2 separate regions of the Homo sapiens genome follow, and region 1 is linked to region 2. Evidence: fine-mapped expression QTL. A gene starts in region 2. The other region holds a variant in brackets. All regions are shown on one strand. Distances are between the middles of the regions.

Region 1 (5,383 bases), 100 kb before region 2:
TGCCTCAGCCTCCTAAAGTGCTGGGATTGCAGGCATGACCCACCATGGCTGGCCCTTTTAATTTATTTAAAATAGATGAGACTATTAAAATAGACTGTTGAAAGCAAAAATTATCACATCCCCTGGTAAGAGTTCTAATATATGCAGATGTAATACTTAAGACAACACTAGCATATAAAGGGTGGAGGGTAAATGGAGTTCTATGGTTGTAAGTCTTGAAACAAGAAACTGAGGGAACATAGGAAATAAAGGACCTGGGGGGATGCAAAAACTCTTTGATAATATGTCTTTATATATCTATGCACTGTTAAATCCTTTCACAAAAAATTGACATTTTTAACTGTGCTGATGTAAGAGAAAATGTATTTAAATTCATTTGATAAGATAATTTTTCCTACATTGCTAAGTTTTATTTCTCTTTTACTAATCAACTTCTTTGTATAAAATAGTATGCAACAAATATATGAGAAGGGAGTAACAGAAACAAAAAGGAAGAAAAGGTTATTTGTAGTAGTATGTACCACCAGAAGAAAACTTTGCTTTCCTGTATCCATAACTTTGATTAAAACTACATAATGGTTGGGCATGGTGGCTCCCGTCTGTAATCCCAGCACTTTGGGAGGCTGAGGCAGGTGGACCACCTGAGGTCAGGAGTTCAAGTCCAGACTGGCCAACACAGTAAAACTGCGTCTCTACTAAAAATACAAAAGTTAACTGGGTGTGGTGGTGCGTGCCTGTAGTCCCAGCTACTTGGGAAGCTGAGGCAGGAGAATCACTTGAACCCAGGAGGCAGAGGTTGCAGTGAGCTGAGATCGTGCGGGCAGGTGGGGAGGAGCAAGTCCTGAGGGCCCTGCTTGCTTTCTCACTGGGGAGGCTAGTAGCCTGGAGCAAGATCTCAGCCCTGCTTGCCAGCTGTCTGGATATAAATTTAGTGCTGTTGGTGGGGCACAAAGGGAGTGAGAATAGCTTTGCTGGCTATGGGAGCTGGGTGAGGCCTGTCACTGCTGGCTTTCCCCACTTCCCTGGTGACCTGTAATGATGCAGCAGAGACAAATACAATCCCCCTGGGAACATAATTCTATTGGCCTGAGAAGCATCCCCCTATCCCCCACAGTGGCACAGCAAGTTCTGCCCAAGGAGAGTCTGAGCTCAGACACGCCTAACACTGCCCCCTCCTGATGGTTTTTCTCTACCCACCCTGGCAGCCAAAGACAAAAGACATAAACTCGTGGGAGCTCTATGGCCCCACCCATGACCTGAGAAAGCCGATTACTTATCTGGCAAATGTAGGGCAAGCTTATATCCCCCTTCTACTACTGCAGGTGGGGCTCTCTTGAAAGCACCACCTCCTGGCTGGAGGCCAACCAACTCAAGCCATTACAGCAACTCATAAGAGAACAATCCTGCTCCAAAGAAGGAGAAAACAATAGCTAATTCCACCACCTGCAACATCCTGGCCAACCAGAGGTCCCGAGTCTATCTGTGTGACAACTTCACTGCTAGCATAACCAGCATTCGAGAAAACCAGCACACTAAACAAAACTACAACCAAGGACTTTAACTGAGTCTAAGTCTACTTCACTCCCCTGCCACCTCCACCAGAGCAGGTGCTGGTATCCACAGCTGGGAGACTTGAAGATGGATCATATCACAGGACTCTTTGCAGACATTGCCTAGCACCAGCCCAGGGCTCAGAAGGGCAATAACAATCACTGCAGTCTAGCTCTCAGGAAGCCCCATTCCTAGGGGAAGGGGGAGAGCACCACATCAAGGAATTACCCTGTGGGACAAAAGAACCTGAACAGCAGCCCTTGAGTTCCAGATCTTTCCACTGAAACAGTCTGCCCAAATGAAAAAGAAACAGAAAAGTAAGTCTGGTAATATTACAAAACAAGGTTCTATCACACACTCAAAAGATCACACTAGCTCTCCAGCAATGGATCCAAACCAAGAAGAATCTCTAAATTGCCAGATAAAGAATGCAGACAGTTGATTATCCAGCTACTCAAGGAGGTAACAGAGAAAGGTAAAAACCAATTTGAAGAAATTTTTTTTAAAAAAAACAGGCCGGGGGAGGCATGGTGGCTCATGCCTGTAATCCCAGCACTTTGGGAGGCCAAGGTGGGAAGATTATCTGAAGTCAGGAGTTCGAGACCAGCCTGGCCAACATGGTGAAACCCTGCTCTACTAAAACTACAAAAATTAGCCAGGTGTGGTCATGGGCAACTGTAATCCCAGCTACTCAGGAGGCTGAGGCAGGAGAATCGCTTGAGCCCAGGACGCAGAGGGTGCAGTGAGCCGAGATCATGCCACTGTACTTCAGCCTGGGTGACAGAGCAAGACTTTGTCTTAAAAAATAAAAAAAGCCAGGCCTGGTGGCTCACGCCTGTAATCCCAGTACTTTGGGAAGCCAAGGTGGGTGGATCACGAAGTCAGGAGATCGAGACCATCCTGACTAACATGGTGAAACCCAGTCTCTACTAAAAAACACAAAAAACTAGCCAGGCAAGGTGGCAGGTGCCTGTAGTCCCAGCTACTCAGGAGGCTGAGGCAGGAGAATGGCGTGAACCTGGGAGGCGGAGCTTACAGCGAGCCGAGATCGCGCCACTGCACTCCAGCCTGGGCGACAGAGTGAGACTCCATCTCAAAAAAAAAAAAAAAAAAA[C/AC]AGGTCAGGCAGTGACTCACACCTTCACACCTGTAATCCCAGCACTTTGGGAGGCCGAGGTGGGTGGATCACCTGAGGTCAGGAGTTCAAAACTAGCCTGGCCAATGTGGGGAAACTCTGTCTTTACTAAAAATACAAAAACTATCCAGGCATAGTGGCATGTGTCTGTAATCCCAGCTACTCGGGAAGCTAAGGCAGGAGAATTGCTTGAACCTGGGAGGCAGAGGTTGCAGTGAGCCAAGATCATGACACTGCACTCCAGCCTGGGTGACAAAGCGAGACTCCTTCAAACACACACACACACACACACACACACACACACACACACACACACACACACATACACTACAGGATATGGATGAAAAACTCTCCTGAGAAACAGACATCATAAAGAAAAGGCAATCACAACATCTGGAAATGAAAGACACACTTAGAGAAATGCAAAATACACTGGAAAATTTCAACAATACAATCGAACAAGTAGAAGTAAGAACTTCAGAGCTCAGAGACAAGGCTTTCTAACTGACCCAATTCAACAAAGACAAAGAAAAAAGAATTTTAAAAAATGAACAAAGCCTCCAGAAATTTGGGATTATGTTAAGCAACCAAACATAAGAATAATTGGCCCTCCTGAGGAAGAAGAGAAATCCAAAAGTTTGCAAAACATATTTGAAGGAATAATCAAGGAAAATGTCCTTGGTCTTGTTAGAGATCTAGACATCTAAATACAAGAAACTCAAAGAACACCTGGGAAATTCATTGCAAAAAGATCATAACACAGGCACACAGTCATCATGTTATCTAACGTCAAGATGAGGGAAAGAATCTTAAGAGCTGTGAGGCTAAAGCATCAGGTAACATATAAAGGAAAACCTATAAGATTAACAGCAGACATCTCAGCAGAAACCCTGCAAGCCAGAAGGAATTGGGATGCTATCTTTATCCTCCTTTAACAAAACAATTATCAGCCAAGAATTTTGTAGCTGGCAAAACTAAGTTTCATAAATGAAGAAGAGATAAAGTTTTTTTCAGACAACAAATGCTGAGAGTATTCACCACTACCAAGCCAGCACTACAAGAAATGCTAAAAGGAGTTGTAAATATTGAAACAAAACCTTGAAGTACACCAAAATAGAACCCCTTTAAAGCATAAATCTCACAGGGCCTATAAAACAATAACTCAATGAAAAAAATGGTAGTCAAGCAACAACTAGCATGATGAAGAGAACAGTACCTTACACCTCAATACTAATGTTGAATATAAATGGCCTAAATGCTCCACTTAAAAGATACAGAATGGCAGAATGGATAAAAATCCACCAACCAAATATCTGCTGTCTTCAAGAGACTCACCCAACACATAAGGACTCACATAAACTTAAGGTTAAAGCATAGAAAAAAATACTCCTTGCAAATGGAAACCAAAAGGGAGCAGGATTAGCTTTTCTTATATCAGACAAAACAGATTATAAAGCAACAACTGTTTAAAAAGACAAAGAGGGATTATTATATAAAAATAAAAGGATTAGTCCAACAGGAAAATATCACAATCCTTAATATATATGCACCTAAAACTGGAGCTTCTAAATTTATAAAACAATCACTACTAGACCTAAGAAATGAGATAGCTGGCAATACAATAGCAGTGGAAGACTTCAGTACTCCACTGGCAGCACTAAACAAGTCAAGACAGAAAGTTAACAAAGAAACAATGGACTTAAACTATACCCTAGAACAAATGCACTTAACAGATATTTACAGAACATTCTACCCAACTGCAGAATATACATTACTTTCATCAGCACAAGGAACAATCTCCAAGATAGACCATAAGATAGGCCACAAAACAAGTCTCAATAATTTAAGAAAACTGAAATCATATCAAGTACTCTCTCAGATCACAGTGCAATAAAATTGGAAATTAACTCTAAAAGGAACCCTCAAAACAAAACAAATACATGGAAATTAAATAATCTGCTTTTGAATGATCTTTGGGTCAACAATGAAATCAAGATGGAAATTAAAAAATTCTTTGAACTGAATGATAATAGTGATACAACCTATCAAAATGTCTGGGATACAGCAAAACGGTGCTAAGAGGAAAGTTCAGAGTATTAAATGCCTACATCAAAAAGTCTGAAAGAGCACAAACTGACAATCTAAGCTCACATCTCAAAGAATTAGAGAAACAAGAACAAACCAAGCCCAAACCCAGTAGAAGAAAATGAATAACAAAGATCAGAGCAGAACTAAATGAAACTGAAACAAAAAAACACACATACACAAAAGATAAAAGAAACAAAAAGCTGGTTCTTTGAAAAGACAAAATCAATACAACCTTTGTAGATTAAATCAGGAAGAAATAGAAACTCTAAACAGACCAAAACCAAGTAATGAGGTTGAAACAGTAATTTTAAAATTGCCAACAAAAAAAGGGTCCAGGACCAGATGGGTTCATAACTAAATTCTATCAGACATTCAAAGAAAAATTGGTACCAATCCTACTGAAACCATTCCAAAAGATAGAGAAAGAGAGGATCCTCCCTAAATCATTCTATGAAGCCAGTGTTACCCTAATGCCAAAACCAGGAAAGGACTTACCAAAAAATAAAAGAAAGAAAGAAAAAGAAAACTACAGATCAATATCCCTGATGAATATAGATGCAAAAATCTTCAACAAAATACTCGCTACTGAATCCAACAGCATATCAAAAAGAT
Region 2 (5,383 bases):
GGCCACATGAAGAGTAGATTTAGGTATTCTGGCTGACTGCCCTATCTGAGGTCCCAGCTTCAACCACCAGCCATGTCAGAAAATATGCCTCCAAAGGATTTCAGTCTTCAACCATTGAGACACCCCCAGGCACTGAGTCTTCCCAGCTGAAGCCCCAGACATCATGGAGCAGAGATAAGCCATCTTTGCTATGCCTTGTCTGAATTCTGACTGAGAGGGTAATTTTATATTTTTCAAAGGGTGAAAGTATAATGTTTGATCCTCACAATGATAGTTTGGCAGGTTGGGCTAGCATTATTATAACCTTCATTTTATAGATTAAAAAACAAAACAACAAACAGGGATTTAAGCTTACCTGCTTTGAGATTGTATAGCTAAGGTGTGGAGTGCTGACGCTAAAATCCTGATCTTTGGACTCCAAAGCTTATGCTTTCTCTCGTTTCTCATCTGGATACTGTAGGACTTTAGAATGGCCTAAGGAAGTAAAACAGGATATATCCAGAATTTTAAGGCAAGGTCAGAAAATGTCAAATGAGTAGAACGCTAAGAAGAATCAATATTAAATGGATGAGACCAGTCATCCTGTGGAGAAATAATCATGGAAGATCTGAACTACAGACTGATACTGACAAATAAGGCTAGAATTCAAAATGGAACCAATGTGAGGATAAAAGCCTTTAAAACTTTTAATGTTATAAGGAAGTGTTATAATGATATAACATTTTTAGCAGCTAATTTTTTAAAAATGAAATAGGACAGTTAGAGAATTAACAAAAATCTTGCCAGTTGTGTTTCTGATGAAAGGGTGATGAAAGGGTGATGAAAGGGGAAAAGGTGCCATGACTGGCTAATGGTGCTATTTCAGTCTGCTTCTAAGTATGTCCTTATAGTAAAGGGTGCTTCAGATTAGTTTAGCTTGATGACATCATCCCTTGTGATCATTTACTCTACATTTGCCAAGCCACTTTTTGATTTAAATTTATTTCCTCATAGAAACTTTCCTACTTGGAGGAGAATGTACAATGAAGTTAACAAAGCATACCATGTTCATGTTTTTTTTTTTTTGGAGACAGAGTCTGGCTCTGTTGCCCAGGCTGGAGTTCAGTGGTGCAATCTCGGCTCACTGCAACCTCTGCCTCCCAGGTTCAAATGATTCTCCTGCCTCAGGCTCCTGAGTAGCTGGGATTACAAGTGTGCACCACCACACCAGGCTAATTTTTTGTACTTTTAATAGAGATGAGGTTTCACTACGTTGGCCAGGCTGGTCTCAAACTCCTGGCCTCAGGTGATCCATCCGCCTCAGACTCCCAAAGTGTTGGGATTACAGGCGTGAGCCACTGCGCCCGGCCTACAATGTTCATCTTATAGGTTATATTTTTTCAATGCAGAAGAATGTTAGTATTCTCATTCATCAAGCAGCCTCACACAGCATCCTTTACCTGAGAGTAAGCATCAGCTCCCAGGCTTACGGTGACCCTAATCAATATGAAGACACCCTGTTTCAGAAGTCAGTAGGACACCTTTCTATTTCTTGAATCATCCAAAATACAGTAAGGAGGTCGCTGGTGACTTCCCCCATGATGGGAAGTACTAAAAGGCAGAATCCACTTAGTTTTTCATGACTTCATGTTTAGGTTACTTTGGTGATTCACTCCAGGCCATTGGGAGCCCACAGTAATTGTTTCTCATTCCCGTTTCTCTCTTCCTTAAACTTTTCTTTTCCAATTATTTATTCTTTATTAGATCCATGTATTTTTAATAATGAATTGAATTTCATTCTGTAATTGGGCTTCTCAAAGATAATTGACCTCTTCTCTCCCAATTGTTTTCATGCGTATTTTGCAGAGAATGCTTGGAATATTCTGTTCATGAAAGGCACAAAGTACATAAAATATTTTGAGTGATTTTCTTCAAAATAAAAATGATTAGTTTTGATGCTTCAGATGTCTAGAATGCTATGTGCCTTGTACAGGCCCTACGGCATGGAAAGTGCTCAACTGATATTTGTTAAATGAATGAATCTGGAAAACGAAAAATACACGAAATATTTTATTCCTCAACAATGAAGAAAAAGCTTTCAGACTTCCATTTAGACTCGTTTTAACTGGCTGAATTCTTCAATGAAAAGAAAACACGCGTCGCACTGCTAATTTAGCTGTTCCTAAATATATTTCCATCAAATTCTGCTTGGCTGTTTCAACCTTGGGGTTGAAGTTCTTATTTTGATGACACAGAGACGTTCATTGCAGTGGAAATAGCAAGTAGTATTGGCTTCCCCGCCTTCCTCCCTCTAGGATTTCAACTTCTCCTCCTCGAACACCAGCCCTGCTCTTCTAGTAAATCCCACATTACAGAACAGGCTGAGGACGGAGGAGACAAGAGGAAAGTAGGAAACCGGAGCCATGGAAACGGCGGAGCGGAGGCAAAGTGTGAGAGCGCGGGTGGTTAGAAGGGAAAAAACCCTCCCCGGACGACGGCGCGAAGGCGCGCCTCAGATTACGTCACGCACCGGGGTGACGTCACGACCGTGACACGCGGGTGACGCCGTTGCCGCGGCGACTTCTCGTCGTCTCCGCCCCCTTCCCCCGCTCCCCCCCGCACCCCCGCCTAGCGTCCTTCCCCCAATCCCCTCAGGCTCGGCTGCGCCCGGGGCCGCGGGCCGGTACCTGAGGTGGCCCAGGCGCCCTCCGCCCGCGGCGCCGCCCGGGCCGCTCCTCCCCGCGCCCCCCGCGCCCCCCGCTCCTCCGCCTCCGCCTCCGCCTCCGCCTCCCCCAGCTCTCCGCCTCCCTTCCCCCTCCCCGCCCGACAGCGGCCGCTCGGGCCCCGGCTCTCGGTTATAAGATGGCGGCGCTGAGCGGTGGCGGTGGTGGCGGCGCGGAGCCGGGCCAGGCTCTGTTCAACGGGGACATGGAGCCCGAGGCCGGCGCCGGCGCCGGCGCCGCGGCCTCTTCGGCTGCGGACCCTGCCATTCCGGAGGAGGTGAGTGCTGGCGCCACCCTGCCGCCCTCCCGACTCCGGGCTCGGCGGCTGGCTGGTGTTTATTTTGGAAAGAGGCGGCGGTGGGGGCTTGATGCCCTCAGCCACCTTCTCGGGCCAGCTCCGCGGGCTGGGAGGTGGGCATCGCCCCCGTGTCCCTCTCCGTCATGCAGCGCCTTCCTACGTAAACACACACAATGGCCCGGGGGGTTTCCCTGGCCCCCACCCCAGATGTGGGGATTGGGGCAGCGGTGGTTGAGCGGGAGGCTATCAATAGGGGGCGAAACTCAGGGTTGGTCCGAGAAGGTCACGATTGGCTGAAGTATCCAGCTCTGCATCTCTGTGGGGTGGGGGCGGCGGCGGCCTCGACGTGGAGGATATAGGTTAGTTGCTGGGGCTGAGACAACAGCCCGAGTTACTGTCGCGTGTAATTCTTACATGGTCGTGGGGATGATGGGGCTCATCATTTCCTCTCTCCTCTCCCGGACTGCCCCCCTTCTCAGTCCGCTGCCCTTTTTCACTTTTCTATTTGGGGATTTCTCTTCACCTGTTTTACCCAGCAAATTATTTTGATTTAGTCTTTACTTTTTCAATCCTAAATCGCAGTTTCCGATGCCTTTTCTGGTCTCTGGTCCTCTGTTCCTAATGTTTGTCAGCGCTCTGTCGCTGATTGGTAACCCCCATTCTATTCCCATCTACCGCCCGCTCATTTTCCAGTTGTCGGACCTGCCTGCCTTCTAACCCCAGCTCCCACTTAAGAGCATTTTTGCACTTCTCTTACCCTGGTCCTCTTGAGGCTCTGTACTTGATCTCACCACTCCCTAACATTGTTGTCTGTTGTTATCTTCACAAATCCTCCTGGACACTTTGGAGCTACTTGTTTTCTGAGCCCAGAAGCTGTCAAGATTCCATCAGGTTTCACTTGGCTCTTTTCGCGCTTGCACTACTGGCACTTTTTGGCTAGTCGTCCATTGTGCATTCACACCTCTTTATTCCTACCCATTTTTATAGGTCTGATTGATTTCTTAGTGTTGTCCTCCTTTTTGTCCTATTTTTTTCCTTTTCCTTTTTCCTCTCCAGTCCTTGCTTCTCTCAGCCTGTTTTTGCATTAGTCAGCCTCTTAGCACTGTGTCAAATTATTTACGTTTTTTTATTACATAAAATTTATTACAAATATTTGGTATTTTATTACAGAAAATAATACTTTATTATGCTTTACAAATAAGATATGGTATAATAATTGTGGTTTACAGTTATTGATTAGGTAATGTGACTTACTCTGTTGACTTTGCTCGAAGTTCTCTTTGCTACTTACTATTAACATCTAATTTCTCAATTCTCATAACATCTCATTCTCTCTGCAATTTTTTTTTTGCATCATCATCTTTGGAAATTCATCCAATATGCTTGCTTTATTCAGCATCAGCTTGTTTATGATAATGTTTGTTTTCTACTCTTTATATCATCTTTGTTACATGCCCAAAATGTGTTCTGTACCATCATTTGATCTGTTCTAAAATTTCTCATTTTTAAGTTTCTTAAAATCATTCCACTTTTCAGTATGCATTTTTGCTTAGATCAGTTTCCTCTCATATCTGTTCCTTTCCCCCAGCTTCTTGATTTCTAAGGAGAAAGCTCTTCTCTACTTCAATTTCCTAGTTTATTCTGTTTCCCTTGTTTCCAGTTACCATTCATTTTGCCTTGTTTCCTGGCTTTTGGTACTTAACTTTCTGAAGCTTCCTCTTTTCTTCTCCACACCTCCACGTTCCTTCTTATTTATAAACATCTTTGTTTCCTTTGACATGGAAATTTATTTTTAGGATACATTGTTTTTAATGGATAAATACTAGGGGTCACATCTGCTGTCTGTTTTCTCCAGGAATCGGATATGCCTTTGTCTTAACCAGGCACAGGTGCCTCTGGATTTTATTTTACTCTGTAATAGATGTGTAGTTTTGTTGAATTGTATCTTGTTTGAAGACTACTACAGAGTGGAACAATGAGTGAAGTAATAAGTAGGGGTTATGAAATTGTAATTCTCTGATTATAAAATTGTTTATCTTGGGAACTTTGCTGCAGAGTTATTAGAACCGTTTGCAATTCTGTAAAGAAGGCTTTTGTGAAGTAAAATCTCTACCCTTCTATTTTATTTGAAAGGGCCAGATTGTTTGGAACTGTACCCCCTGAAGAGTCTGATTTAGTAAGTGAGAGCGAGGGCCATGGATTTCTGTATTTGGCACATGTCTTGAGCAGTTCCCATGTACCAATCCTTGAGAACCTCTAGGCTAGCTGAATTTAAGTATAAATTGCCAGTAATTGGAAAGCATATTCATATCTTCTGAAACTATAAGGATACTCTCATTTTACTTGGTTAAAAAACAAGTGTTTCCTACTGTCCTCTTTACCC

Alleles and levels. Alleles are on the strand shown, and positions count from the first base shown. SD is a standard deviation of normalised expression in the study named.
For the expression in subcutaneous fat of the gene that starts at base 2,616 in region 2, C is the low allele of the variant in region 1 and AC is the other (moderate effect, 0.65 SD a copy in FUSION).

What was found. PIP is the estimated chance that this variant, and not a neighbour inherited with it, causes the effect.
Region 1: its variant is the best candidate, but not a certain one, in a credible set for the expression of BRAF in subcutaneous fat (FUSION, PIP 0.57).

Annotation. Positions count from the first base shown.
Region 1 is chr7:141,023,023-141,028,405 of GRCh38, reverse strand. No RefSeq gene overlaps it. Among named protein-coding and RNA genes, the nearest start is that of MRPS33, 11 kb to the right of the region's middle. RefSeq lists a silencer at 3,351-3,551. The variant C/AC (reference allele first, on the strand shown) is at 2,666.
Region 2 is chr7:140,922,162-140,927,544 of GRCh38, reverse strand. It overlaps BRAF (B-Raf proto-oncogene, serine/threonine kinase), which reads left to right and starts at 2,616. Exons shown (of 18, transcript NM_004333.6): 1 at 2,616-2,979. The coding sequence starts at 2,842. LOC105375536 (a long non-coding RNA gene) reads right to left here and starts at 2,453. Exons shown (of 5, transcript XR_002956518.2): 1 at 1,043-2,453; 2 at 356-474. RefSeq lists a silencer at 2,724-2,793.